3 linked regions of the Homo sapiens genome follow. The protein of the gene in region 3 interacts with the protein of the main gene of each other region in a biochemical or structural test. Each region holds a gene or a part of one and is shown on either strand. Other genes may lie near its edges.

Region 1 (10,333 bases), on a different chromosome or scaffold from region 3:
AACAATACCATCAATTGAGCACTATTGATGCCTCTGTGCCAGGGACCATTCTAAGTACTTAAATCTAAGTACTTAAACCCTCCAGACTATACCTATGCCACTCAGTGATGATTATAATACAGATCCAATCTACACGGAAGAAGCTATTTAGGACAGTCAATTCACTAGGCCAACTGCAATTTGGTTTCTGCCAAACAGAACCGCTTTATATTAATAAATTTCATTTTGAATGTTGTGTCTTTTATGCTTTTCTTTATGTTTGATTTGTGGATGTTTTGATTTTATATGTGTAATGATAAGCACAAGGAATTTATGTCTAATTTAAAGTTACAAATATTTAAATAATGTAACAACTTTGATGAACTCTAAATGTCGGTGAGAACATTTTACCCTTGAAATATACACTTCAAGAAATGCTGGTCTCTGTGGATGCTCAAGGACTAACTTCAAGGCCCAGCTCTATGAATGCTGGTGCTGGCTGTGTGTTTGTGCATCTGTATGTCTTACATTTGCCAGTTACTCACACCACTGTCCGGCATTTGTCTATACATCCTGACCCTTGACCCTCCAGTTTCCCCATAATAGCCGGGACAACACTTCCTGCACAGAGAGGATGGTCACTGATTCAGTGACCTTAAGCTGGAATTTTCCATCACAAGACACATGAGATAAAGGCGAGACATATGACAAGGGATGGCTGGCTGGTCTGCAGAGGAGGCAGACACACAGGAAGGGCTAAGACAGGTGAGTGAACCTAGGTCATGCCCTGTGCCTGGGTCACACTGCAGGCCTGTCATGCCATGGTCCCAGTGGTCACAGGAGGCAGACACTGTTCCTCCCCAATGTATTCTATCTAAATTCCTCCATTTAACATTTGAAAACTCCACCTAATATGCTCAGAAGCCATTTCTGGGACTACGAGACAATCTCCTATATTGTTTGACTAACAAACAATGTGCCTGACCTTCCTGGGCTTGTAAGTGGTGGAACAGGACTCGAAACTAGGTCGGCTCCAAGCCCAGTCCGTAACACCACCCAACGCTGGTGCTCTTTCCATGGTGGGTGAGAACCCTGGAGGGACCTGAACCAAGGCGAGGGCACAGGGCGAGTGGAAAGAAGGTCCCAAACACGTGGGACCTTCTTTTCCGCTGATGCAGCATGGATCCAGCTGAAGGAGGCTTTTAATAAGAAGTTCCCATTTTCCACCTATCAGATGAGCAAATATCCAAAAGTTCACTAATACCATCAGTTGGCAAGGCTAAGAAACAAGGACATTCCTGGTGGAGTGTAAATGGGCAATAATCTGTGAACATTCCATATTAGTCTATCCTTTTGCTCGGCAATTTTGCTTCTGGGAGTTTATGGAACAGAGATAGCTACGCAGAACTAAAAGACCACATACACAAGGTTATTTATGAAAACACAGGCCCCAGCACCCATTAAATACTGGGCTGATTAAGTAAACTAAGGTACATTCATACACTAGAACAATATGCAATAGAAAAAAAAAGAATGAGGCTGGGCGCAGTGGCTCACGCCTGTAATCCCCAGCAATTTGGGAGCCTGAGGCAGGAAGATCTCTTGAGCCCAGGAGTTCAAGACCAGCCTGGGCAACACAGTGAGACCCCCGTCTCTATAAAAAATAAAAATAAAAGAATGAAGAAGCTCTGAAATGAAAAGATCTTCTCCAAAACAAGATATAGAACAGTGTGTATATACTGCCTTTGTAGGAGAGAAAGTAATAAATAAGGAAGAAATTTTAAAAATCTTTTATTTTTTTTTTTTTGGGACAGAGTCTCACTCTGTCACCCAGGCTGGAGTGCAGTGGCACGATCTCGGCTCACTGCAAGCTCCGCCTCCTGGGTCCACACCATTCTCCTGCCTCAGCCTCCTGAGTAGCTGGGACTTCAGGCGCCCGCCACCACGCCCGGCTAATTTTTTGTATTTTTAGTAGAGATGGGGTTTCACCGTGTTAGCCAGAAAGGTCTCGATCTCTTGCCTTTGTGATCCGCCCGCCTCGGCCTCCCAAAGTGCTGGGATTACAGGCGTGAGCCACTGCGCCCAGCTGAAAATCTTTATACTGGTATTTGTTGTAGATGCATTTAGAAATTTGGAAGAATATACAGGAAATTATTATGGTTTTAGGGGTGGGAGGAAAGAACAGGGTAGAGGGAGAACAGGAATGGGAAAGGCTTTCACTGTATATGTTTTAGATTTTTTTTAACCATAAAAAGATTATCTATGCAAATTTTTTATTTTATTTATTTATTTATTTTTTTTTTTTGAGACAGAGTCTTACTCTGTCACCCAGGCTGGAGTGCAGTGGTGCGGTCTCAGCTCACTGCAAGCTCCACCTCCCGGGTTCATGCCATTCTCCTGCCTCAGCCGCCCATGTAGCTGGGACTACAAGGCGCCCGCCACCATGCCCAGCTAATTTTTTGTATTTTTAGTAGAGACGGGGTTTCACCATGTTAGTCAGGATGGTCTCAATCTCCTGACCTTGTGATCCACCTGCCTTGGCCTCCCAAGGTGCTGGGATTACAGGCGTGAGCCACCGTGCCCAGCTGCAAAAAAATGTTTAAAAGGCTGTGTGAAGAAGGCTCTGCCCAGTTCTCTCTTCAGCCTAGTTCATCTGCCCCACATACTCTTCCACACATCTGTCTGTCCCCACCTGTCCACCACCTCCTGCATGCAGCACTCAGGTCCTGTGTCCCCCAGGAGGTATTCTGTGAAGTCACACTCTTATGCGTTATGTTTCATCTATTTGTTGGACGTTTTAAATGTACTCTGACCTATTAGTTTCCTTCCTTCTAGATGAAGACAACAATATTTTACACTGTGCCTTGTAGAGACTAAGTATCTTGTTTTTTTGTTGTTATTGTTTGTTTTCAGTTTTTGTTTTATTTATTTATTTATTTTTAATTTAGAGGCAGGATCTTGCTACATTGCCCAGGCTGGCCTCGAACTGCTGGGCTCAAGCAATCCTCCTGTATCAGCCTCCCAAGTGCTGGGATTTCAGGCATGAGCCACCGCACCCGGCCAAGTAACTTGCTAAAAGTCACCGGGGCAGAGCTGGAGCCCAAACCAGCTCTAAGCTGTTCTAAGTCCACTTTCTCCACTATGCCTGTATTGCCTGCTACAGTTCCCAGCTACTCCAGTCCCTGGAGAAGTCGATGACTCCCTTGGCTTTCTTTAATTACTAATAGAGTTCAGTAACAGACAATCACATGCTATGGGAAGAAAGGGAGGAGGAGAGGAAAGAAAGGAGGGAAGAGAGAAGATGGGAAGGAGTGGGGGCAGCGTACTCACTCTTGCAGAGACCGGTCTGAGTCCTCAGCATTTGCTGTGCCCAGGTCTGAGTCACAGGACATGGGCTCCTCGCAATGGTCTGGACTCTTGGAGCCATTCTCTTGGAGTAAGCAGCTATCAGAGTTTAGGCTGCAGGACAGCTGGGATGAACTGGCCGTGTCCAGGCTGAGGGAGGAGGCAGTCAGCTTCTGGTTCCTCCGTATCTTATGGCCCGAGTGATGGACTTCGATGTCTTCAGAGCCTGAAGAATGGGAAATGGAATCCAGAGATTCCTTCCGCTGTAGTTCTGCACCAGAGGTAGAGAGAGGGTCCAGCTCAGAAAGCGGGCAAAGCCCAGACAGGGCCAATGGGGTGAGCGTCCACTCATTTAAGATGGCAGACTTGTAGGAGAGTTCGAAGGACAAGGACGTGAGGCCCTGCAGGAAGCTAAGGAGGAACTCGCCCTCCTCAGCATCCCGGAGCAGGGCGGTGGGCTGGTAGTACTCATGCAAGCGGGCCTGCTCCTGCAGCAGCAGCTTCAGGTAGCACTCCATCAGGCCATCGTTCAGGGCCAGCCGCAGCCATGCCCGGCAGCGGCCCACATCCGTGTTGACAAACGTCAGGTGCTCCAACTCTGAGATGATGTGTCTGGGAAGGGAGAACAGACGTGTTTCAAGAAACTACCCCAAATCACAGAGATGTGCTTTTATCCACTGGTTAGCAGGAACCAGGAATAACTACTGCAAATAGATACAGGCATGAAAAAATATTGGGTAATAGTGTTTTAGGCCAGATGTGGTGGCTCACACCTGTAATCCCAGCACTTTGGGAGGCCAAGGCAGGTGGATCACTTGAGCTCAGGAATTCGTGACCAGCCTGGGCAACAGGACGAAACTCTGTCTCTACAACAACAACATAGCCAGATGTGGTGGCTTGCACGTGTAGTCCCAGCTACCCAGCTACTCGGGAGGTTGAGGTGGAAGGATAGCTTGAGCCTGGGAAGCAAAGGTCACAGTGAGCGGAGATTGGACCACTGCACTCCAGCCTAGGCAATATATATATATATATTTATATTTATATATAATAAATATATAAATATAAATTATATATATTTATACATTATATATATATATATATTTTGAGATTGGAATTGTGAAAGATAATTTCCATGTTCATTCCAACTACCACGGGGCCCCTGACACATCTGCTCATCTAAGGCATGCTGTCAGAGCTCCTTAAGTGCAAAGTCCTTGGAGCAATGAAGATGCAGGGTAAAGACATGGTCCCTGCCCTCAGGCACAAGGGACTGATGGAAAAAGGCATAAAGTGTAGGAAATCAACAACCCTGTAAGAGGATTGGGGAGCGCTCCAATTACAGCATGTGGCGGAAAAGTGGGTGGTTTGGTTGCAAGGCCAGGAAAGAGAGGGTCTTAAATATCAAATCAATAAGGCAACACGGGGTAATGGCCCCACACCCAGCTGTGCACCAGAACCCCCTGGGGAACTTGAGCAGGATACAAGTTCTGGGACCCCAACCTAGTGAATCAGTCTCCAGGCTAGCATCTGGGAGCCTGTAGGCTACAGATTTTTGTTTAGAAAAGTGACTTGACCACAGTCATGCAGACTGCAGGGTAGATGTTCTGCATAAGGAGATCAGACCCCAGGTGTACCAAACTCAGTCCCAGAATGCCTCCGTCTGATGTACATGCCCCTCTGAGCTACCACAGTCCCTAGCGCAGGTTTATCTCCTCCATGGGAATGTAGACCGCACTCTACTAGGCTCAGTGAGTAAGCTCCAGGGAGCTTCAGCTCAGTAAATGTTGACCAGATGATGGACTCAAGGAAAGACAGAGTGAGATAAGGGGGACAAATAGAAAGCCAGTGTCACCCAGGAAAGAAGAACGTGAGACAAGGCAGTGGCAATCTGCATGGAAAGGAAGATTAGAGACTGACAAGGCTTCTTTTGGGCTGAAGGTGGCATTTAGTAGTCCTCAGAGGCACAGTGCCAGCTACTTGCTCAAAAGCCCAGACAGTTAGGGGCCAAAGAGATAAGTGTCTCAGGGTGAATATTCATATGCTTTTCCTGATTCCACTCTTTATATAATCCCAGCACTTTGGGAGGCGGAGGTAGGCAGATCACAAGGTCAGGAGTTTGAGAGCAGCCTGACCAACATAGCAAAACCCCTCTCTACTAAAAATACAAAAATTAGCTGGGCGTGATGGTGCGCGCCTGTTGTCCCAGTTACTCAGGAGGCTGAGGCAGGAGAATTGCTTGAACCTGGGAAGCAGAGGTGCCAGTGAACCGAGATCGCGCCATTGCACTCCAGCCTGAGTGACAGAGCGAAACTCCATCCCAAAAAAAAAAAAAAAGATTTACAATTCGGATGTTTGAATAATCTAAGGCAGGGTCAGCAAATCCAAGGCAGGGTCAGCCCTTCTGTAAAGGGCCAGATAGTATATTCTTCAGGCTTTGCAGGCCACACAACCTCTGTTGTAACTATGTAACTCTGCCCCAGTGTGGCAAAAAAGGCTGTTCCTGCTAAAGGTGGCCAGTCTCACCTGCTTTTTGTGACCAGTCTCAAAGCAGCCACAGGCTCTTGCCTGAGTGCTGAGGGTCTCAAGATCTGCTGGCACACTGGCTGGGAAGCTTGGTCTAGAGATAAGCCTTTCTAGAAGACACTTTCAACCCCTACCTCACCCTCTCTCTATGCTAGAACACAGGGCACCTCTGTTGGCTTCCTGAACAGCTGGGGAGGAAAAGCCAAGTGTCCCATAGTCTGCTGCTCCTCCGCAAAGCAAAACCTCTCCAGCTAAATCTCACTTGTGGGTGACAGCTTTCAGGAGGGGCCAGAAGACAGGCTGGGGCAGAGGCTTCTGGTGGGCACTTTTCTTCCTTTTTCCTCCGGCCTCAGCTCGGATGTGCTTGGCGTGCAGGCCATGGATAAATACGGCCTCCAGGGCGCTGCACATGGTGTTGGCATCTCCGTCTTCACTAGTGACCACCGTGTCCAGGGACACGTACTGCTTCTGCAAGGCCTTCACGGATCCCACCAGCTTCTTCTTGATGACCTAGGCAGCACCACACAGAACACAGGCCTTTAGCGGAAAATCCTATGGAGAGTCCCTAGAGTGTAATCCTTTAGCTGGTGCCAAATACGTGTGCAACCACATGCACACACATCTATGTGTGTGTCTGTAGATTCCTTCTGCAAAATTAGCACATTGTTAACTACAGCAAAGAAAGATAAAGCATAGAGAAGAAAAGGAAAATCACACACACTACCCAGAGATAATTACTGTTATTGTTTGTTTCATATGTCCTTTAGTATAGATACTTTTTGTTTTTTAGACCAAACTTAAGTGAACTTAGAGCCATATAATCTTGTGTTTAAATATTGGCCCCATCATAGCTGCAGTGATGGGAGCTTGGGTAAATCCATCTAGGACAAGGGTGGGGCTTCCCACCTTTTTTACATGGACAAGCTTCTGTAGAGAATCAATAAGCCAAGAGGCAAAAACAAACAAACAATAAACACCCACACTGCTTTAGAACAATAAAAACATGAGGAGAACAGGAGCATGGTTTACTTTAAGAAAGATCCTAGGCTGGGCGTGGTGGCTCAAACCTGTAATCCCAGAACTTTGGGAGGTCAGAGGCAGGAGGACTGCTTGAGTCCAGGAGTTCAAGGCTGCAGTGAGCTGTGATCACACCACTGTACTCCAGCCTGGGCAACATAGCAAGACCTTGTCTCAAAAAAAGAAAGATCCTAGGCCTGGAAGCCAGAGGACTAGGCTCAGTCCTAGCTGCCAGTAACCAGATGGGCCTCCTCAGACATTCCACTTAACCGCTTTGAGCCTCAATTTCCTTATCTGTTAAAGTGGAAATAATACTTTCTGATTTATAGTACTATGAGGATTCTCCTGAGGACAGGACTACCTTTTTTTTTCTTTTTTTTTTTGGGAAGTGGTTTCTGGTGAAAACCAGAAAACCTACTAGATAAATTCTAAAAAGAGGCTGGGTGTGGTGGCTCACACCTGTAATCCCAACACTTTGGGAGGCCAAGGCAGGCGGATCACTTGAGGTTAGGAGTTTGAGATCAGCCTGGCAAACATGATGAAACCCTGTCTCTACTAAAAATGCAAAAATTAGCCAGGTGTGGGCCGGGCACGGTGGCTCACGCCTGTAACCCCAGCACTTTGGGAGGCCGAGGTGGGCGGATCACGAGGTCAGAAGATCGAGACCATCCTGGATAACAGGCTGAAACCCCATCTCTACTAAAAATGCAAAAAAATAGCTGGGCGTGGTGGCAGCGCCTGTAGTCCCAGCTACGCGGGAGGCTGAGGCAGGAGAATGGCGTGAACTCAGGAGGCGGAGTTTCCAGTGAGCCAAGATCGCACCACTGCACTCCAGCCTGGGCGACAGAGCGAGACTCCGCCTCAAAAAAAAAAAAAAAAAAAATAGCCAGGTGTGGTGGTGAGTGCCTGTAATCCCAGCTACTTAGGAGGCTGAGGCAGGAGAATCACTTAAACCCAGGAGGCAGAGGTTGTACTGAGCCAAAATCGTGCCACTGCATTCCAGCCTGGGTGGCAGAGTGAGACTCCATCTCAGAAAAACAAAACAAAACAAAACAAAACAAAACAAAAAACATATATATAAAAGAGCTGAGTGTGGCACTAAGACTAGTGTTTTATTCATCCTTGTGTCAACACTTGGCACTGTGCCTGGCACATAGAAATACTCAATAAATGTTTGTTAAATGATACACCACAAAATGTACATAGAGTCTTTTGGAAATATAGAGTAAAAATTGAGCATAATTATAAGCATGTGAAAATCACATAAGTGATTGGAAAAGGACTGGAAGGGATTACAGAAAAACTGGTTTGAATTGTTGGGTGATAGGATTATGGCTACATATTTTAATCTTTTATTTTGATTTCAGCCAAAACACTAAATGTTAACATTCTTTGAAAAGTTAAATTTGAAAAAATATAACGGTTTTAATGAGATATAATTCATATACCATAAAATACACCCATTTAAAGTATACAGTTCAATTGTTTCTAGTATATTCACACAATTGTGCAACCATCACCACTACCTAATTTTAGAAGATTTTCTGGCCGGGCACAGTGGCTCACGCCTATAATCCCAGCACTTCGGGAGGCCAAGACGAGTGGATCACCTGAGGTCAGGAGTTCGAGACCAGCCTGGCCAACATGGTGAAACCCCCATCTCTACCAAAAATACAAAAATTAGCCGGGCATGGTGGTGCACACCCATAATCCCAGCTACTTGGGAGGCAGAGGCATGAGAATCACTTGAACCTGGGAGGTGGAGTTTGTAGTGAGTCAAGATTGTGCCACTGCACTCCAGCCTGGGCAGCAGAGGGAGACTCCGTCTCAAAAAAACAAAAAAACAAAAAAACAAAAAAACAAACAAAAAAAACGATTTTCATCACCCCAAAAAGAAATACTGTATATTAGTGATTGCCAGGGGCTGGGAGAAAGGGGAATACGAAGTGAATGCAGTCACTAATCTATTTTCTGTTTCTGTGGCTTTGCATATTTTGTACATCTCACATGAATAGATATCAATACAGCATATGACCCTTTGAATCTGACTTATTTCACTTAGCATATTTTCCATCATGTTGTAGCATGTATCAGGACTTCATCCCTTTTTATTGCCAGAAAATATTCCGCTGCCTAGATATACCACATTTTATTCATCCATTCATCAGTTAATAGACATTTGGGTTGTTTCTACTCTTTTGCTATTATCAATAATGCTGCTATGAACATCCATGTACAAGTTTTTGAGTGGACTTATATTTCTAGTTCTCTTGGGTATATATCTAGGAGTGGAACTGTACACATAACCCTATGTTTAACTTATCAAGGAACTGCCAAACTGTGTGCCAAAGTGGCTGCACTATTTTACATTCCCACCAGCAATATATGAGTTCCAATCTCTCCACATTTTTGCCAGCACTAGTTATTGCCTTTTTTATTACAGCCATCCTAGGGGGTGTGAAGTAGTATCTCACTGTGGTTTCGATGTGCATTTTCCTGATGTCTAATGATAATGAGCATCTTTATTGGCCATGTGTGTATCTTCTTTGGAGAAGGGTCTATTTAAATCCTTTACCCATTTTATAACTGGATTATTTGTCTTTTTATTGTTGAGTTATAAGTGTTCTTTATACATTCTGGATACTAGACCCTTATCAGATATTTGATTTGCAAATATTTTCTCCCATTCTGTGGGTTGTCTTTTCATTTTCTTGGTAGTATCCTTTGAAGCTCAAAAGTTTTTAATCTTGAAATAGTCTAATTTTAAATGTTCTTTTAAAAGCAAGATGTTATTTGTATATTATATTTAAAAAGTACATACATACTTCGTTCAATTGAGCACCTACTAGGTGTTGGGTTAGGGTATACAGGGAGAAATAAGGCATACCCTCAAGAAAGGCATACCCTCATGGAGTCAGTTTGTGCAGCTGTTGTTAGAAGGCTGGGTTGGCCAGGCTTCTGCCCTAGCTCTGGAGGGTCCTGGGGTGGGATTCGGCAGGCACTGGGGGTGGGAGAGTGGGGGTGCAGAGGGGAGGGAAGAGCCTCTGCATGAAAGCCAGCTGGGAAACAGGTGGAGCTGGACTCTCCTGTGGCCAGGACGGGGAAAGGCACGTCTCTGAGAGCTACAGTTTCTTTCAAGCAGAGTTCTCTGAGCTGGGAAGCAGCAGTGGGGAGGAAAGGAAATCCTGGCTTCTCCCCGAAAGCCATCTCAGGATGCTGCTAAGGGACCAGCCCCAAAGCTACCTGACTTCCTGCCTCTCCAAGAGAACAGAGAGCTCTATCTGGAGTACCCAAGATAGCCCAGGAGGGTGCAAAGGGCTGTCCAAGAAAAGGTCCTAGGGGGCTCCAGTGAACTGCTCACAAATAATTACATTTAGAATATCCTAGAAAATGGTAAGTGTTCAGATACATGTAAGTTACCAATTTACCCCCATTACTGAAACAACAAACCAGTGCCTGGGAATATCTG
Region 2 (10,238 bases), on a different chromosome or scaffold from region 3:
TGCAAAAAATTAAAGAAACTGAGGTTTGGAGAAATTCACTCATTTGGCCAATGTTATAAAGTTTGTAAATGGTAGACCTAGAACTTGAACCCAGGCCTGATTCCAAAGACCATGATTTTCTCTAAGGTATTATTAGCTTATTTCAGGTATGTACAGGTAGACTGATAAAATAAAAATCAGAGAAAGAGGAAGGATATTAGTGCATGTAAAATTTAGCTATAAACTACCCTTGCTGCCAAGAGAAATATTTACTAAATGCATAGTAAACACTAACAACTGTGCCATGTATTCAACTGACTCCTTAAAAATATTAATATGCTTAATATTGCTTTAATAAAGGATTTCTCAACCTCATCTCCTGAACATGAAACATACCAGTTTTCACCACTGGGGAAACATACCATTTCACCACTGTGAAAATATACCATTTTTCACCACCATTTTCACCACTGTTAAGGTGAAAAATGTATTTTAAAATGGGGTACGCCATCTTGTAAAATTCTGCATATTTCTTTTACTCAACAAAATGATAGACACATTTTCATGTCAGTACATTTAGATCTAAGTGGTTACTGAACAAATATTAAACACTAATTATTGTTGTGACAAAAATAGAATGCATGGTTTCTATTTACTGAATCAGACACCTTTCTAAGATTACACAGACATATAAACGACTAGTTTTGAAACATGTAGGTACAGATGTGAAGGTATACACTTTCATACATACTGCTTGTGGAAATGTGCCAACATTTTGGAAAGTAATCAGTATGTTTAAAAATCTTAACAATAATCCAAATCATCCTTTGGCCCAGAAAGTATCCTACATATACAAAAGCTTCAGCCCATAAGGCTACAGGTATTAGTGCATTTAATGCACCATTTTTACAGCAAAAAACTGGAAATAATCAGCAAAGAAATGACTGAATAAAGTACATCTATAATACAAAATAATATCCATGTAGTTTAGAAACCATTTTGATTGATATGCATTAACCTGGAAATACATCCATGATTTTGTTAAGTGAAAAAACACATGTTGCAGAGTTTTATGCAACAGCATACCCCACTTTCAAACACACACACACACACACACACACTCAACCCTATATTCATATAATATGGAATACACACCAAATTGTGAAAAATACATGGACAGGAGAAACAGGGAATAGAGAAATTATTAACTTTTCTTTATATATCCCTGCACTGACTTACTATAATGAATTAAAAATAAAATTTTCTCTACCGATAAATATTTCAAAAGCCCTTTTCTATTTTAATACAGGTTAAAGAATACCCAAACAAAAACAAACAAATCTCCCACTCATAATATTCCCAACATTATTTCCGCATTTACTGATAATAAGAGGAATATCTTATGAAGCCAATAATACGATTGGGTTCAAAATAGAAAAACCAACACTCAATAGTAGAGGGCATATTTTTGGGAGTTTTTTAATAGCTTAACTACTTACTGTTTGCTCTGATTTTAAAAACTGTTATACAGCTATTCTACTCCTTAGAACCTATGATGTTACTGTATAATTTTTACATAGCTGATCCAAGACATAACAAGGGAAAAGCAACCCATTAAATATTCCAGGTAATTTAATTCTTATCCTTGTTATTTCCACTGATAAGTTTTTTGTTTGTTTTTTAACATGCACGACGTTTTGTTAAAAATACCAGAGCTGAGATGGACTGCTTCTGTAGTTCCAACATAAACATATCTGTTAAGTATCTACTAAGCACAAAGCATTGTGCCAGGCTTTAGCAAGACAGCAATGATCAAAAAAGACAACACTGTCTCTGCCTTCGTGGAACTCAACAACAGAAGCATGCTGACTTGCTTTAGAGGCCCACTAAAATGGACCACTACTACCTGATTTGTCAGTCAGGCGGATAAAACTTCTGTAGTTAATCTAATAATCTAATCTAATAAAAATGAGTGGTCAATTTCCTCAACAGTAGTACAAGTAGCCCACCCACTTAAAAAAAAAACCTTACTTTTGACAATATACTTAATGTCACTTTTATATAAATAATGTGAATCATTTTTAAAAGCTGGATTGCTTAATGTGGCAAAAGTAACTTTGATGGTCTTCTATATACAGGAAATAAAGTATTCTAATACTGGACCTCTGTTTACAGAAAGAAAGCACTTAACAACCAAAAAGCCAAAAAAAACCCCTGCACTTACTGCTCAAGTTAAAAGGATTAATAGTGAAAATTTTACTACCGATATTGTGTCTGAGATTTGCTTCAAAATAATTTGGCAAGGAGGAGGCAAGTGTATATTGATGAAGCAAGACTGATCACTGTTGACACTGGCTGATAGGTATATGAATGCTCAGTATGCTACCTGATTTTGTATATATTTAAAATTGTCTAGAATAAGAAGCTTTTTAAAAGTCAAGTACAGTACCTCTAATACTTCTATTTGTCAAACTGTTGTCTTTAGCCATGCCTGGCATTTTTTACCACATAAAAATGTTTCAAGCCTCTTTTAAAAAACATGAAACATCTCTCAATAGCCCAAGTTTTCACATTTTATTTACCTTAATCAAGTTTCCTCCACTAGCACAATATCTTACTGTGACTATGCAAAGATATTTGATATTGATAAAAATGAACACTCCAAATTCTGTTGCAAAGTTGAAGTATGCAACAATGATAAAGTTTAACTGTAATACAAAAAAAGCAACAACTTTTTAAGATGTAGCTTTAATTTCAAGGGATTTTTTAATAGCTATTATAATCTAAGGTTTTACGTCTTTACAATAACTGCCATTTATTGAGGGCCTAACACATGCCAGCTACTTTATAAACAGTCTCTAATCCTAAAAACTCATTTTTCAGATAAGGAAACCGAAGTGATCTACCCGTGGTCATACTACTACTAAATGGAGAGCTAGAATTAAGGCCCAGGTTTAACTCTACATGTAGCTCTCCAAAGCTATACTCCTCTCTCATTCATTCAAAAGATATTAAACACCCACTATGTGCCTGGCACTGTTACAGGCACTGATTTACTATATGCCAAGCAATGTGCTAAGGGCTTTCTTTAAACCCCATTTAATCCTAGCAACAACTCTAAGATGCAGGTCCAATTATCCCCTTTATAGATAAGGACACTGAGTCCGAAAGGTTAAGTAACTTGCTTAAGATCACTTAACTAGGAAGTGGCAGTACTGGAGGGAGAACCCTTGACAGTATGACTCCAAAACTCTTAACCACGACATACCTCTAGGCATGATCAAATAAAACTGCCTAAACAGAACTTGGAAGAAAAAATTTGGAAAGGCTTGGGGGAATAAAGGGGTAGGAGCTGGATTACTGCAAGGTCAAGTTTGTCTTCAACAATCAAATCTAAATAAAAGGCAGTTGTTCCTCTACAATATTTACCTTAGAAAAATAAAAGAATTTTTTAAAGGCAGTTGGGATAGTAACGAAATGAGCAGTAAACTTTGCAAGAGTTCAAATCTGGGCTCTGACACTTGCTGTGGGGTCACCAGGAAGGCACCTGTCCTCTTGGAACCCGTTTCTTCTTCATATATGAAACTGAAATCCTGGCATCTCTCCTTTGGGGTTTGTAAGCATGAGGATTTGCCAGTGTAGTGGTTGACTTTATGGACTTTAGGTCATAAAAGGGTAATCAGCTGTCATCCAATGCGAACACAGTAAAAAAGGAATAAAGTTGTAACTACATTATAAATGGTCATGTCTGTAACCCTAGCCTAATTTTTGAATGTAGTACAGAAACCACCAGCCACAGTGTGAGCCGAAGCCAGTTTGTAATGTACCATCAACAGCCAGACACACATCACAACTTTAGGCCTCAGTTTCCTCACTTATGAAGTGGAGACAACTTATCTCCGAGGGCTACGCGGGGCAAGATAAATAGGTACAAAAATACATAAATATGTACCTGGCCCACAGTTAAAACGCTTAAAACACTCCAGCTCTGTCGTCTTCTCTTAGATTCTAGAAATGCCACAACTTTCTCTTATTTCTAGATGCTCTGTAGGTTCAGGGCCGTAGAGGCTGTCCACGGGCCTCACAGGAACGCACCAAAACCAGGACATCGCAAGCACAGGCGCACAGACCCAGACCCCGGCCCCGGCCCGGCCCGGCTGCAGGGCCGGGCTCCCCACATCGACAAGGACACCGGAGCTGCCCCGAGACGCCAAGAGGGCTGCGAAGAGCTGCCTTTGTACTCAGAGCCAGACGCGGCCTACGGGACGGGACCGCCACGTCTGGGGCTTGCGGGCTGCAGGGCGGCGCGGCACGCGTGGGTACACCCTGCGGGGGCGGGCTGCGGCCGCGGGGAACAGCGGCGAGAGGGGGGCCCGCGGGAGATGCGGTCCTGCCCAGCCGCGCCGAGAAGGCGGGGAAGGCGAGGCCGGAACACACCCTTCCCTGCACGCCTCGGAGCGCCCCGCCGGTTGGGGAGGGCAGGAGGCTCAGGCCGGAGCCGCGCAGGGGACACCTCCGCCCCCGCCCAGGAGTCCTGTCAGGCCGGCGCCGCGGCGCTCACCGCCGACCCACGGGCTAGCCACGGCCTGACGGGGCCTGGCCCCGGGGCGCCGCCCGCCTGCGGCCCAGTCTCCACCGTCCCCACACACGCCCCTCTGAAGAACCCGGCGCGAGGAGGTATCAGCCGGCCGGACACTACGGAAGGCCCGGGTTACCTGGGGGGTTGCTGGTGGCTGGGCAGCTTTCCGGGCGGGAGGGGGGCGTCAGGACCAGGAACAGGAGTGCGGACGCAGCGGGAGAGGGGGCGGGGGCGGTCGACCGAGGCGCCGGCAGGTACACTGGCAGGCCGAGAGGTGCAGACGCGCCGGCAGCAGTAGCGGCAGTAGCAGTGGCAGCGGTGACTGCTCCTGTGCTCCCTCAGTATCTTCCTCGGGCTGGTCCAAGATGGCGGCGCTCCCTGCACAGGGTTTCCTGTCACCCTCGCAATGGGCCGGACCACAAAAGAAGGGGGAGAAGATGCGCGCGCAGCTGGCGGAGCCCGGAAGAGGGTGGCTGAGGCCAGCCCGCTAGCCACGCCCCTTCCTCAGCCCTCACCTCTGGACTTGTCGCGCCGCCGCTGAGGCCCGCCCCACGGGCGCTCGCGCCCGGAGGGAAGGTGGAAAGCGCGTATGCGCAAGCGCAGTCGCGTGTCCTCGCCTCTTGGGGGAGCTACTGCGCAGGTCTGCGTGGAACCTGGTGGGGTGCGCCTGCGTCTTGGAGAACTAGGGTTGTCGCTCGTGGAGACTTTTGAACAATTTTTAAAGCCAACATTTACCACTTATTGGACGCTTACCGTATACTGGCCACCATGCTAAGCATGCATTTACTGCATTCATTCAACGTGTATTTATGGGGGCATTTACTGTATATACCGCTGTATGCTTCGTATATACCGGTCCTGTCCAACAAACGTCGGAGGCACGCATCCCCATTGTATCCATGGAGAAACTGAGGCTCAGGTTGGTCAACTCTCTTGTCCAAGATCACGCAGCTAGGAAGTGACCCTGCATTTCATCTCTATTTTGACTTCACTTTGGGGTTGCCTTTGACAGGGTGAGAGAAATGTGATATTTTTCACAATTTGTCTACCACCTGCCATCTTCCAACTTGCTCTGCCATAATCACTGCCCCAGAAGGTTTCGTGCTTTTCGGGTGCAGGGACACGTTTTGACTTTCTTGGACCCTGAGCACTTTTGCCTTGTGGCTTGTACATTACACACACACATATATTTCACACACATGTAAGTTAAATATATGTATAAATATTTAACATATTTTACAACTGCATTGATATAAACATGACGTATCAATATTATATAACAAAATATTTTCTCTGACCTGAAAGTTCATTTTTTTCTTCTGACTTTAAAAGAATGTAAGCCGGCCGGGCGCGGTGGCTCACGCCTGTAATCCCAGCACTTTGGGAGGCCACGACGGGCGGATCACGAGGTCAGGAGATCGAGACCATCTTGGCTAACACGGTGAAACCCCGTCTCTACTAAAAATACAAAAAAATTAGCCGGGCGTGGTGGCGGGCGCCTGTAGTCCCAGCTACTCGGGAGGCTGAGGCAAGAGAACGGCGTGAACCCGGGAGGCGGAGCTTGCAGTGAGCCGAGATCGCGCCACTGCGCTCCAGCCTGGGCAACAGAGCGAGACTGTCTCAAAAAAAAAAAAAAAAGGAACGTAAGCAAGGAGGGCTGGTAGTCTGCGCCTGTAATCCTAGCTACTGGGGAGGCTGAGGAGAGAGGATCGCTTGAGCCCAGGAGTTCTGGGCTGTAGTGCACTGTGTCACTAGATAGAGTGTCTGCACTTAAGTTCAGGAGGGAGGGACCACCCAGGTTGCCTAAGGAGGGATGAACCGGCCCAGGTCGGAGATGGAGCAGGTCAAAACTCCCGTGCTGATCAGTAATGGGATCATACCTGTGAACAGCCACTGCACTCCAGCCTGGGCAACATGGGGAGACCCTGTCTCTAAAATAAATAAATATTCATTTTTGTTGGCCCCTAAAAGTATTGGAGGCCCTAAGCCCTGTGCATACTGTACTGTGCCTAATGGATAAGGTGGCCCTGCCTTAGTTCCCCACCCCCAAATTAAATCAATCTTTCTCTTAGCGTTCAGGACCTTTTATGAACTGGTTCTGCCATGAACAAGTGAGATTTCACTGTAAAAGTGTGTGCCAGTTTGTACATCTCATATTTTCAGAGACCTGGGTTCGAATTCCTGCTCTATAATCTAATGGTATGCAGTTGTGCATGTCACTTGATTTCTGAGATTGTCAGTCTTTTCTGCAATATGAAAATAGTAATATCTCTCTCAAATAGGTCTTTGTGAAAATTAAATGGGATAGTATATGCAAAATATCTGGTATATAATAAGAAATGGAAATGATTATTACATGATAATCTAATCTAAGGTGATATTGAAATCCTTTTGCAACCCTAGAGGTCTAGGCTTCTATTTCCACATTCTTTAATAAGTATAGTTTGTTGTCACACTTTAACATTTTTGAAACTAAGAAATTTGCCTGTGCCAAGTAAAGGAGAAAACTGTGAACCAATGATCATTAATTGCCCAGGTATGAACTTAGACCTGGCTAGTAAGTTTCCTTATAGCCATTATCACCTGAAGGGAGATCTTTATGTATAGCTGATGTTTATTCAACACTTACTATGTACCAGCAACTGTCCTAAGAATCATGCATATTTTCTCATTTAATCCTTACCACATCCGCATGAAGTCAGTACTATATTTACCCCATTTTATGAATGAAAAAACTGAGTGTCATACAGATCTAAAGTCGTTTAGGTGAAAATTGGGTGGGACTTAAATCTGGCAACATGTGACCTCAGGGCTGTACTAAGCCCTATTCCATTTCCTCCCTTATTTGCTCTTGTTTCACAATAGCCAGCTTAAATGCAGGTCCCTAACTGCTGCTTTCCTATGTGAAAGACATTACACTTTGATGCAGCTTTGAACAGAAACACTCTTGTGGATGCAGAGTGCCTATCACATGCTAAGGAATGCAATTAAAAAACAGTAGGAATGGTCAATTCTTTTAATAAGTCCCAGAATTTTCAAAGTGAGGAGAGTGTATGTGACCAGTTGCAGCATAATTAAGAGGGACTGTCCATTGGGTGCCAAACATCCATTGGGGTTTCTACTTAACTTTTTTAAAAAGTTGTTTCTATAAGAAGAGATGTATACATGGAATAGTCACTGCAGCACTGTTTGTAATAACAAAAAACTAGAGACAAACTAAATGTCTATCACTAGAAAGCTGTAATAGTAAATTATAGTACATCTATATTGTGAAATACTATGCAGCCATCAAAAAGAATGAGGCCCATGTATATGTCCTGATATGGAACAATGTCTAGGAAATACTTGGAGGGAAAAAAGCAAGGTGCAGAAAACTAAATAGTATGCCAACATTTGTTAAACTATAAGAGGAGGGCAAAGAAGACATGTATGTTTATGTAACTAGACATTGAGAGGGGTTTATTCCATGTATACATCTCTTCCTATTGTCCTGGATCTGTTGCTGAAGCCCAAACTTGAAAATAAAAAGCCCACAAGGAGCTCACATTCTACACTGAAAAAACTGCCAGTGGCTGGGGCCAGCTACCTTCTAGCAGGGAATTTGAAGAGCAGTTGTTGAAGAAGTCAGCTCTTGACCAACTTCTACCTCCACTCCACTACTCCCTCACCTATTCCCCATTTCCAACCCCATCCCCACAGACACACCATCACCAGTAATCTGTGGAAAGAAAGATTGGAGACATGGGAGGGAAGTCAGCCTTTAGGGAAATTGTAATGTCATGGAAAGAGACGCCTTCTTTCTGTCCCCTCATGGAGACTGTGTCCTCATCTAGAACCAAAGGAGAGGGGCTCCAAAAGAATCACCAGTGAGGATTGGGTGTGCCTGCAGGAAGATGGGACTGACAACTCCCTGGATATCTATCTGTTTGGGCAGCACTGATCTGCTCTGCCCTATTGCTTCCTGCACAAAGGAGAACACAGATGGAGAGAGACAGCACTGGAGGGGCTTTGGATGGTGTGGGGAGAACCTTAGATGAAGAGGGGCTGAAGTTGCTTCCCCTTATCCCTTCCTCCCACCTTGACTTTCTAGTCCCAGATTGGAGTACGGCAAAGAAGTGTCCATCAGAGAGGAGTGTGGCATAATGACACAAGCTAACCATCTGCTGGAAGATATAGCAAATGTGTGAGGGGTCACCTGTTCCTGGGAAGATGCCTGGAATCCTCCAGGTGTGCAGGTTGTTTGTCACCTGCTCTGGCTTCATTTCTGCTTGTATTTTTATAAATTGTTTTGTAAAAAGTAGATGTTATTTTATCCTTCATCTCTTCCCAGAGCCTAAACAATTAAAGTCATTTTCAGATCTCTCTGTTGTGTTTATTTAAACAAAATTAATTCATCTCCTCATTATAGGCTTAATTTTATTTGTTCATTTTCCTCTTATGCTTGTGAATTTTGGTTCATAGGCTTATCTTGAATTGGAGATTCCCCCCTACCCCTATGCTTGAATCTTTTTTGTTTAGTGGTTTTGGAGTTGCCACCGAGCCACACTCAGACTTTAAAATACTGGTGTCCCAATTCCTGAAGCAGTATTGAAGATTTAGAAGAACTAATACAATTTGTACTCTAAATTTTATTACCACATGTGTGTTCTACCTAATTTAAAAAACGAATATATTTTAATGTAGTTGATTAACTTCCAGTGATACATAATTTAATTAAAAAGAAATGGTCAAAAAAGCTAGTTTAACCAAAAAAAGTTGAGATCAGGTGCGGTCATGGTGGTATGGCTGTCGACATTAACCAAAACAGAAACAGCAATTAATATACTTCAAAATTTAGTAGGTTGACAAAGAAATCAAAATCAAGGGCATGAGACTCATTCGTCTCTGGGTATGAAAAAGGATTAGATTCAACTTATCACACTAAAAAAAGGTGATGCATAAATGTAACAATAAGTACATTCTGTATTCAATTGTAAAAGAAATTGTGTGTCCATTGAAATAGTGCCCTTTCATCTCCCCATACACCTTATACCACCCCCTCCCAAAAAATATCCTCTCGTGTCACAGCTTATGAGGGCATGACATTAATGAGGTAAAAAGCAAGCTTGAAATTTTCCCAGGAAAGCACCCTACCGGAGACTCATTTATTGTCATTGAAGCATTCCTTTGGCTGACGACCAGAAGTTGGTGGTTTCGACTTAAGAGGCCATGTTACATGAAAAAAAAAAAAGAATGCATCTTTGAACTTTGTTTGTTTGTTTGTTTGTTTCGAGACTAAGTCTGGCTCTGTCACCCAGGCTGGAGTGCAGTGATCTTGGCTCACTGCAACCTCCACCTCCCAGGCGCAGGCCACCCTCCCACCTCAGCCTGGGACCACAGGCATGTGCCACCATGCTTGGTAAACATCTTTCAACTTTAGATTCACACTCAGTGGGGCATAATGACCACACCGTGAGATCCACATGGAAACTGAGACCTACTGAGAAAACATTTAACTCTTTCATTGCATGCTCACTCCAAGGCATGCACTTATTCAGAAAAAGGGAAGGGAGATTGATATCTAAATTATTTCTTTATTGCTTTTTCTGACTTTGTACATTTAGTTGAAATAATGCGAGTTAAAAGCATGTGTGATGTAACACAACTGAATTAAAGTGATGATGAAGGTGCTGTTGAGAAC
Region 3 (10,333 bases):
CTATTAAAGACCTCTTCTGGGCAGACTGCATTCTGGCCACAGATTCATGTACATAAATACACAAATAAATCAAGATAGCCCAACAGCAATCCTGAGGAGTGGAGAACATTCTGCCTAGTCCTTGTGTCCGAAACATTGGCAAAACGAGTCATCAGCAGGGTACGGTAAGTGACAGCAATCAGTAGAAATAAAAGATCCTACAACCCACTCTTTTGAAGAGAAACTAGGAATGGATCTCAACTACTTCCTGTATCTCTTATACTCCTGAAGACAAAATTAGGAATTGGATGAAATGTTAATTCTCAGTTTTTGTGCCACTGAACTTAAATATAGCATTCATAGCCTGTCATTTCCAACCAGCCATCCCTTTATATCATTAATTATGTAACACTTTTTTTTCCAGGGGTGTGGGGTGTGCTGTGCAGTGCAGGGGAGACCTGGTCTCACTCTGTCGCCCAGGCTGGAATGCAGTGGCACCATCATGGCTCACTGCAGCCTCCTGGACTCAAGCCATCCCCTTACCACCTATGCCTCCCCGGCAGCTAGGACCACAGACACGCAGCAGCACATCCAGCTAATTTTTTTTATTTTTTTATTTTTTGTAGAGACCAGAGTTTCACTATGTTGCCTAAGCTGGCCTTGAACTCCTGAGCTCAAAGGATCCACACCCTTCTCAGCCTCCCAAAGTGCTGGGGTTACTGGCATGAGCCACCACGCCCCAGCCTGTAATACAATTTATACTCAAATCATCCCTTTTTCTTCTAAACCCATTCTTTCTTCCCCACCCTGTAACTGCTGTTTGCTGATGGTACAACCATATTCCCCACCATTCAATCAAATCTTTAAAAGGGTCTTTGCAAATTCCCCTTTGTCCTGTACCTCTGACTTAATTGCTAAATTGTACTCATCCTATTTCCATAATAATGCGTACCTTTCCCCTCCTCCCCAACTGTCTCCCTCAATGTCTCTCAACCAGACCTCTGTAATAACCTTGTAACCAATTTCCTTGCGGATGGTCTCTATATTGCTGCTAAATTAATCCTTCGGAAACACAGGTCTTATCTTATTCCTCTGAATTAAAACCTTCAGTGGCCCTCCATGCCTAATGTCACACTCAGTCAAGGCCCTGTGGGAGCTGACTGATCTACTTTTCCAGCCTTTGTTTCTTTTTCCTTCACTAAGGTTATGCCTAAACCAACAAAAAAATTTCTTTCCCTCAGCTGTGCCTTTGCTTTTCCCACTGTTCCTGCTTGAATATCTTTTTTCCCCACATGATATCGGCAGTTCCACAAGGGCAAGAACATTGTCTGCTTTGCTCCCCATTATATTTATGCTGCCCAAAACACTGCTTGACATATTTGTTGAATAAATGAAATTCCTCTACTCTTATAACCCAGCTCAAAAGCCATTCCTGCCACTGTCCAACCAAAACTCAGCAAACAGCCTTACTAAATAAAACTCCTCCAATGTCTTAATGGGGTGGGTCAGGGGAGAATTCCAATAGCATTTTGTATCTTAAGGCACTTAATATTCCTCTCCTATACATGGCACATACCCGACCATAAATGACCTTGTCTGGTACATTTATAAGTTATCTATCACAATGCCTTGCACCTAGTTTAAACATGCATGGAGTAGGTATACTTTGCTGTTATTATTCATTCATTCATTCATTCAGTATTTAAAGAGCTTGTCATGTGGCAGGGACTGTTCTTAGCAATGGGGTACAGCATTGTAAAATATGATAAAGTCTTGGCTCTGTGAAAAGGGACAGACTATTAGAAACAAGAGAACAAGATAATTTCTGATGGTTAAAAATAATGAGAGGAGCCGGGCGCAGTGGCTCACGCCTGTAATCCCAGCACTTTGGGAGGCCGAAGCAGGTGGATCACCTAAGGTGAGGAGTTCAAGGCCAGCCTGGCCAACATAGTGAAACCCTATCTCTACTAAAAATACAAAAAAATTAGCAGGGCATGGTGGGGAGAGCCTGAGGCTGAGGCAGGAGAATCACTTGAACCAGGGAGGCGGAGGTTGTAGTGAGCCGAGATCGCGCCACTGCACTCCAGCCTGGGAGACAGAGTGAGACTCTGCCTCAAAAAAAAAAATAATAATGATGATCATAGGGAATATGATCAATCCTAACTTAGGGCAATACCTACTACAGAAAGGATGGGAGGACTTAGGCACAGTACAGGCTCATGCCTGTACTCCCAACACTGGGAGGCCAAGGAAGGAGGACAGCTTGAGCCCAGTAGTTCAAGATCAGCCTGAGCAATACAGCAAGATTCCACCTCTACAAAAAAACAAATTTTTTTAATTAGCTGGGCATGACGGCACATGCCTGTAGCCCCAGCTACTCAGGAAGCTGAGGCAGAGGACTGCTTGAACCCAAGAGGTTGAGGCAGCAGTGAGCCATGATTATGCCACTTTACTCCAGTTTGGGTGACAGGGTGAGACCCTGTCTCAAAAAAAGGAAAGAATGACAGAAAAATTCAAAGGATAAAACTAGTCAAATCATTTCATTTCTGAAATTACCGGAACTCTGAAAAAAAGACAAAAACCAAAGTTAAACATTTCAGTCACTTAAGAGTAGAAAATAATGGCAGTAACCAAAATATTCATATAAGGGTTAATGAAAACCTGTAACGTCAATTTAATATTTTTAAGAAACGGGTAGGCTGGGTGCAGTGGCTCACACCTGTAATCCCAGCACTTTGGGAGGCCGAGGTGGGTGGATCACTTGAGGTCAGGAGTTCAAGACCAGTGTGGCCAACATCGTGAAACCCTGTCTCTACTAAAAATACAAAAATTATCTGGCCATGGTGGCGTGCGCCTGTAACCCTAGCTACTCAGGAGGCTGAGGCAGGAGAATCGCTTGAACTCGGGAGGCGGAGGTTGCAGTGAGCCGAGATCGCGCCACTGCACTCCAGCCTGGGTGACAGAGTGAGACTCTGTCTCAAAAAAAAAAAAAATTTTTTAATTTTTTTATTGAAATAAGATTGCCAAAAGCTAGAAACGAAATAGCTAAATTATGAAGGAGAGAAATGTAGGTTTCCTTTCTTTTCCTAGATTTTCCTCTGATAAGAACTATTTACAAATGATGAAGTCCATGTATTGGCATTAAAACATTCTCCGGACAAAATGAGCTTTCAAGAAAATGGTGGCCGGGCACGGTGGCTCACACCTGTAATCCCAGTACTTTGGGAGGCTAAGGCGGACAGATCACAGGAGTTTGACACCAGCCTGGCCCACATGGTGAAACCTCGTCTCTACTAAAAATACAAAAATTAGCTGGGCGTGGTGGCGGGTGCCTGTAGTCCTAGCTATTCGGGAGGCTGAGGCAGGAGAATCACTTGAATCCCCGTGCCACTGCACTCCCAGCATGGATGACAGAGTGAGACTCCATCTCAAAAACAAAAAAAGAAAAAGAAAAAAAAGAAAAGAGCGAAGAAAAGGCAGGCCTAACTATGTGTGTAGCCTAGATTTTAAGCAACCTCATTCTTAACATTATGCTACATTTTGCATACTGAAGTAAGAATATAGGTTCATAGGCTGGGCGTGGTGGCTCATGCCTGGGCCGAGGCGGGCGGATCACTTGACGTCAGAAGTTCAAGACTCGCCTGGCCAACGTAGCGAAACCCCATCTCTACTAAAAATACAAAAAATAGCCAGGCGTAGTGGCGCAAGCCTGTAATCCCAGCTACTGGGGAGAGGCTGAGGCAGGAGAATCATCTGAACCCAGGAGGCAGAGGTTACAGTCAACCGAGATCATGCCACTGCCCTTCAGCCTGGACAACAAAGCAAGATTCCATCCCCCCGCCAAAAAAAAAAACACACACACACACAAGCAAGCAAGCAGCATCCCACTATAATAGGTCCAAGATTAGGTAAGGATTATACTGAAATATATCAGGGTTATGGAATATGCAATCTACCAATACTTCTAAAACAAAATAGCAGCATGATAAGTAAAGGGGATGAGCTGTATTTATATTTACATGGCTTGCCTGGGAAGCTCAACAAAAAAGAACTATGTTCTCAGGGGCAGGCGTGGTGGCTCCTGCCTGTAATCTCAGCACTTTGGGAGGCTGAGGCAGGAGAATCTCTTGAGCCCAGGAGTTCCGGGACCAGGCTGAGCAACACAGTGAGATGAAGTCTCTACAAAAAAAAAATATATATTTTTTTTTAAGAGAATATGACCTTGGTCAGGTGCAGTGGCTCACGCCTGTAATCCCAGTACTTTGGGAGGCCAAGGCAGGCAGATCACCTGAGGTCAGGAGTTCGAGGTCAGCCTTGCCAACATGGTGAAACCCTGTCTCTACTAAAAATACAAAAACTAGCTGTGTGTGGTGGCACGTGCCTGTAGTCCCACCTACTTGGGAGGCTGAGGCAGGAGAATCACTTGAACCCAGGAGGCAGAGGTTGCAGTGAGCCAAGATCATGCCACTATACTACAGCCTGGGTGATAGAGCAAGACTCTGTCTGAAAAACAAAAAAGAGAGAGAGAGAATGTGGAGAATGTGGCCTCACTATGTTGCCCAGGCTGGTCTTCAACTCCTGGCTTCAAGTAATCCTCCTGTCTCTGCCTCCCTAAATGCTGAGATTACAAGCGTGAGCCACCACACCCAGCAGCAAAAATCTTGTTTAAAAAAATTAGCCAGGCGTAGTGACATACGCCTGTGGTCCCTACTACTTGGGAGGCTATGGTGGGGGGATCTCTTGAGCCAGGGCCCAGGAGGTGGAGGCTGCAATAAGCCATGATCATGCCACTACACTCCAGCATGGGCAACAGAGCAAGAACTTGTCTCAGAAAGAATTATGTTCTCTATAGTTATCAGTCTTGGCAGTTGCTGAAATATAAAAAGGAACTTCTTAAAATATATTAAACACAAACAGAGCAGTATCTAATAGGATAATTTTAAAATACCGTTCTACTTCATCAACAAAACTATGTTTGTCCTAAAAAATACCAGAGGACAAAGTGCTTAACCAAAGTCCAACTTTATATATGAAATCTGCTCAGTATTAGCTGGGCGAGGTGGCAAACACCTGTAATCCCAGCTACTTGGGAAGCTGAGGCAGGAGAATTGCTTGAACCCGAGAGGTGGAGGTTGCAGTGTGCCAAGATCACACCACTGCACTCCAGCCTGGGCAACAAGAGCGAGACTCTATCTGGAAAAACAAAAAACAAAAAACAAAAACTGTTCAGACCTTCTCAGTGGGAGTGTACACTTTCTGGAAAGCAATTTGGCCATATGACATAAAATGCGTTTTTGACCCAGAAATACCAACTCTGGAACACATCCTCAGGAAGTGCAGATCAAATTGAGTACAATAGGAAAACATAGGAAAAATCCCTCAAATGTCCAATAAGGGAATTACCAAATATGTTATGGCATATCCACAAGACATACCACAATGGAATAAACTATGAAGACATGAAAAATGTTTTAGATAGAAAAATGCATACACTGTAACAATTAAACCAGAATATAAAGCATTATAAGTAATATTATCTCAGAACTTTTTAAAAGACATCTGGATATACACATTAAGAAGACAAAAACGAAATGCTTTTAATGTTGACAGTAGTTAATCTTGGATGGTAGAAATAAGTGGCTTCTTCTACCTTATACTATTCTTTTCACATCTCCGCTAATGAGCCTGTATTGTTTTGATAACACAAAAAAAATTTCAGAAAAAAAATTTTTTAATAATATTTGAGTAACTTTTTTATAGGTTCAATGTATTTTGTATCCATGTTCAGTAACCATCCACTTACTATATCTTTGAAAAACTTAAAAAATCCATTAACTTGTGAAATATCTTCTAAGACAGGCATTTAGAATGCATTATTGCACTCTAACAGCTTCTTAATGAGAACATTTGGCTTTCAAGATTCTTGGTCTGCAAGGAAAAACAAATAATTGGAGCGGGGATGAAGGGTAGAAAACTTTATGGAAGGTAGAGATGTTCCTTTGTAAGATGCCTCATTTTCCACAACTCAGAATCTATACTTGAAGACCACCTTATTGGAAGACTAGCTTCTCCAGTCAAGTTTCAGATGTGTAAAACATCTAGACTTGAACCACAGCCCATTTTCTTTAAAAATGGTTTTTGCCATTCTTACCTCCAAAGAAATTAAATAATAAGCAATACAATCAAATACAAAATTATTTCTGCTTTTTTTTTTTTTTTTTTTTTGAGACGGATTTTCACTCTGTTGCCCAGGCTGGAGTGCAGTCGCTCAATTTCGGCTCAACGCAACCTCCGCCTCCCAGGTTCAAGCAATTCTCCTGCCTCAGCCTCCTGAGTAACGCCAGGCTAATTTTTGTATTTTTAGTACAGATGGGGTTTCATCATGTTGGTCAGGCTGGTCTCAAACTCCTGACCTCATGATCCGGCCGCCTTGGCCTCCCAAAGTGCTGGGATTACAGGCGTAAGCCATTGCGCCTGGCCCTCCGCTTTTTTTTTTTTTTTTTTTTTTTTTTTTTGAGACGGAGTCTCGCTCTGTTGCCCAGGCTGGAGTGCAGTGGCGCAATCTTGGCTCACTGCAAGCTCTGCCTCCAAGGTTCACGCCATTCTCCTACCTCAGCCTCCCGAGTAGCTGGGACTACAGGTGCCCACCACCACACCCAGCTAATTATTTGTATTTTTAGTAGAGACGGGGTTTCACCGCATTAGCCAGGATGGTCTTGATCTCCCTCTGCTTTTTAAAGATACTAAAAGTAGTTCAACAACTCAGTAATGCCTGTTAGCCAGTTATTTAAATATCCAAACATAATATTCCACTCTTACTTTCCACAGATTATCATTCCTTCTCCTAATTCATGTTCATAGATAAATATATAGTCCTCAAATGTTAGTCAGTATGCTTAAGATGCCTGGATTTAAAATGCTCTCTCTAGAGAGACACACAGTACTCATTACGTCTGTATTTCTTATTCTATAAAGCAAACATTTCATATACGATACAAAAACTGCAGCTGATTTTTTAAATTAAATTAAATACAAAAAAGATGTTTAATGGATTAAGATCTCCCAATCCACAGTTCTATGGTTCTAACCTCAGCTGGATCTAAAGAGGTGGGAAAAGTAGAAAGTACACTGGCCCCAGATTCTAATTCTATCTCTGCTACGAATTAGCTTTGTTGCCTTGGAATTCCACTTAACCTCACTGGATCTGCTAGCCACATCTAAAAAATGAGGGGAAAATTAGACTACTTAATCAAGGTTTCTACAAACTCTTTAAAAAATGATTCTAGGTTCATATTTCTACAGTCTTCCCAAATATCTTCTTTTCCTAATTCTCAGCAGTAATAAACTTTCCCTTGGATTAACCTTTCAGGTATCAACAATGTGCAAAAGTGTAGACAAATTTTTATACTTCCATTTAAAAAATACATAATGTCCATAAGATTTATCCTATATTATTTTGGCAAATCCTATTAGATATTTTTTAATAACTATAACATATCTAAAAGCCCCAGTTAAAAATAAAGATTACTCAATATACATTACACATATAGGCACATGACTTATTGTGCAATAACTGCCAGAACAGTTAGCAATGGAAAAAATACTTCATTCCTTGACACTAATCAGAAAAGACAAGACTAGGGTGTTTCTTTTTTATAATGTTCAAAACAAAAGAGAACACTACATATATCAAGTGTCTCTACATAAAACTGGATTAAATTAGGTATCATTTCAGTTTTAAAATCCTAAGGAAAGGCATTCTAAGTCTGAGCATTCTGTAACTAAGCTGCATTATCTTTTAGACTCAAACCAAACCCTACATATAATAGTAATTCAGTCTCATGAACCTTTTGAGTAAGTTAAATGACATCTATTAAATCTTCCTTAATGTTTAAGGCACATGTAGTGACATTTTAATGTTTACAAAATGTTGATTTTTACAAAAAGAAAATTGGCTTCAGCTGAAGCTTTTCATACCTGAGAAGTCGCTTCTTAAATGTGAATAAGTAAATGGTCACCTTTCTAGAGTGACACATAGTACTCAATACATCTGTATTTCTGATTCTATAAAGCAACTATTTTATATACAATACAAAAAGTGCAGCTGATTTTTTAAAAGGCTAAACTTACTATTTTGGACACATTGTTTCTACCTAAAAATCTCTAAAATCATCTTTAATCACTAACTTGGATTTTAATCACTACATCCTCAACATATTCTATAAGAATCAGGGGTTAGGTTAGAGCCTTGAGGTTAAAAAAAAAAAAAAGTATGAAATTCACTGAGGGGGTCCCTTTCAGCATCTTAAAAGCCACAGCCAATTACAGCCCAGATGTCTTTTTTCTTTTTTAAATTAATATTACTTTTAATTGACAAATCATAATTGTATACATTTATGGAGTACAATGAGATGTTCTGATACATGTTTACAGTGTGGAATGACTAATTCAAGCCAATTACACATCCATCACCTTATCTTTGTGACTTTTTTTTTCTTAACTGAAGCTACCCACACCATTACAATTTTAAAAAGAATAGTCTAATGATAACAGTGGGCTGGGCACAGTGGCTCACGCCTGTAATCCCAGCATTTTGGGAGACCAAGGCAGGCATATTACTTGAGACCAGGAGTTCGAGAACAGCCTGCCCAACATGGTGAAACCCCGTCTCTACTAAAAATACAAAAATTAGCTGGGCATGGTGGCAGTCGCCTGTAGTCCCAGCTACTCGGGAGGCTGAGGCACGAGAATAGCTTGAACCCAGGAGGCAGAGGTTGCAGTGAGCCAAGATCATGCCACTGCACTCCAGCCTGGGCAACACAGCGGGACTCCGTCTCAAAAAAAAAAAAAAGATAATGGTGGAGCCACTGGTTCACTTTGACTTCAACAGCTTTGCAGAAGTTTTGTTGTTGTTAAATATAATAATCTAATGGTGGGGGCGGGGCAGGGGGGAACACATGATGCGATTACTTTCCCCAATCCATAAATCCACTACTGCAGCCCACATCTGGATAGATACAGTGATTCAAAGTAGAAAATGATACCAGTTGAGTCCCTTCTCAGTATTTTTCAAGCCATCGTTCCTGCATTAAACAGGTACGCCCAATTACAAATAACAACAGTTACCATCTACCTATCCCCTTCTGTGGGCCAGTATGAGTGCTAGCCACTTAACATCTTTCATGTCATTTAATCCCTAGAGCAACTCTGTAAGAAACATATCATTACCTCCATTTAATAGATGGGAAAGTAAGGACTCAAAGAGGATGTAAGGCTGCTAAGCGGCAGAGCCAGATTTCAAATCCAGGGCTGTCTGACTTCAAAGGTCATGCTCATTAAGCTACACTGTCTACTGAAAACAGAAGCATAAAAATCACCAAGAAGTTTCTCAAAGATTTGCTCAACTTTTTAGAGTTCCCAAGCATAACAACTCAACTGCAACAAATACAACTGGCTGTATTAATACACCTATCCACATGAAACATTAATTCCATGTTGTCAAAGAGCAAGTTTTACAAGATGACTCCAATTCTCATCTCAAGGGGATATGAGAAAATTTACAGTTAACTGAGCTCAACTTCACTCAAGCTTATGCCTCATCTTTTCCATATTATATAAAAGCTCTAGCAGGCTTATAATCCCAGTATGCTGGGAGGCCAAGGCAGGAAGACTGCTTGAGGCCAGGAGCTCAAGACCAGCCCTGGCAACATAGCAAGAGCCCGTCTTTATAAAAAATAAAAATTAAAAATAAATAGCGAGCCATGGTGGTAGCACATGCCTGTAGTCCCAGCTACTTGGGAGGCTGAGACAGGGAAGATCACATAAGCCCAGGAGTTGGAGGCTGCAGTGAGCTACGACTGCACCACTGCACTCCAGTCTGGGTGAAAGCTCAAGACCCTGTCTCCAAAAAAGAAAAGAAAAAAATTCTAATATAAATATGTAACCCGAAGTTCATGTTTCCTCATTAATTTTAGTGGTATTAGGCCAGGAACGGTGGCTCATGCCTGTAATGCCAGCACTTTGGGAGGCCGAGGCAGGAGGCTCGCTTGAGCCCAGGAGTTCAAGGCTGGCCTGGCAACATAGGAAGATCTTGTCTCTACCAGAAAAAAAAAAAAAAAAAAAAAAAAAAAATTAGTGGTATTAGATACACATTCCACTCTTCTATTCCTGCGGAAAGATAGTCATTCCAAGCGCAAAAAATCATAATATTACAATAGGAGGCCAGGCGCGGTGGCTCACACCTGCAATCCCAGCATTTTAAGAGGCCGAGTCGGGCGGATCACATGAGGTCAGGAGTTTTGAGACTAGCCTGAGCAACAAAGCAAAACCCATCTCTACTAAAAGTAATTAGCCG

The links.
Region 1: the proteins of ARL8B (region 3) and PLEKHM1 form a complex in vitro, tested with the Homo sapiens proteins (one study listed by BioGRID and IntAct).
Region 2: the proteins of ARL8B (region 3) and RAB14 form a complex in vitro, tested with the Homo sapiens proteins (one study listed by BioGRID).

The regions. Positions count from the first base shown.
Region 1 is NC_000017.11:45,471,791-45,482,123, forward strand, and holds part of PLEKHM1 (pleckstrin homology domain-containing family M member 1), read right to left. Parts: intron 7,299-10,333; exon of another isoform or gene 7,252-7,298; intron 6,358-7,251; coding exon 6,110-6,357; intron 6,098-6,109; exon of another isoform or gene 5,848-6,097; intron 4,124-5,847; exon of another isoform or gene 4,098-4,123; intron 3,937-4,097; coding exon 3,310-3,936; intron 1-3,309. UniProt on the Homo sapiens protein: Acts as a multivalent adapter protein that regulates Rab7-dependent and HOPS complex-dependent fusion events in the endolysosomal system and couples autophagic and the endocytic trafficking pathways.
Region 2 is NC_000009.12:121,196,945-121,207,182, forward strand, and holds the start of RAB14 (ras-related protein Rab-14), read right to left. Parts: upstream 4,926-10,238; 5' UTR 4,695-4,925; intron 4,657-4,694; exon of another isoform or gene 4,539-4,656; intron 1-4,538.
Region 3 is NC_000003.12:5,124,034-5,134,366, reverse strand, and holds part of ARL8B (ADP-ribosylation factor-like protein 8B), read right to left. Parts: intron 5,908-10,333; exon of another isoform or gene 5,552-5,907; intron 1-5,551. UniProt on the Homo sapiens protein: Small GTPase which cycles between active GTP-bound and inactive GDP-bound states.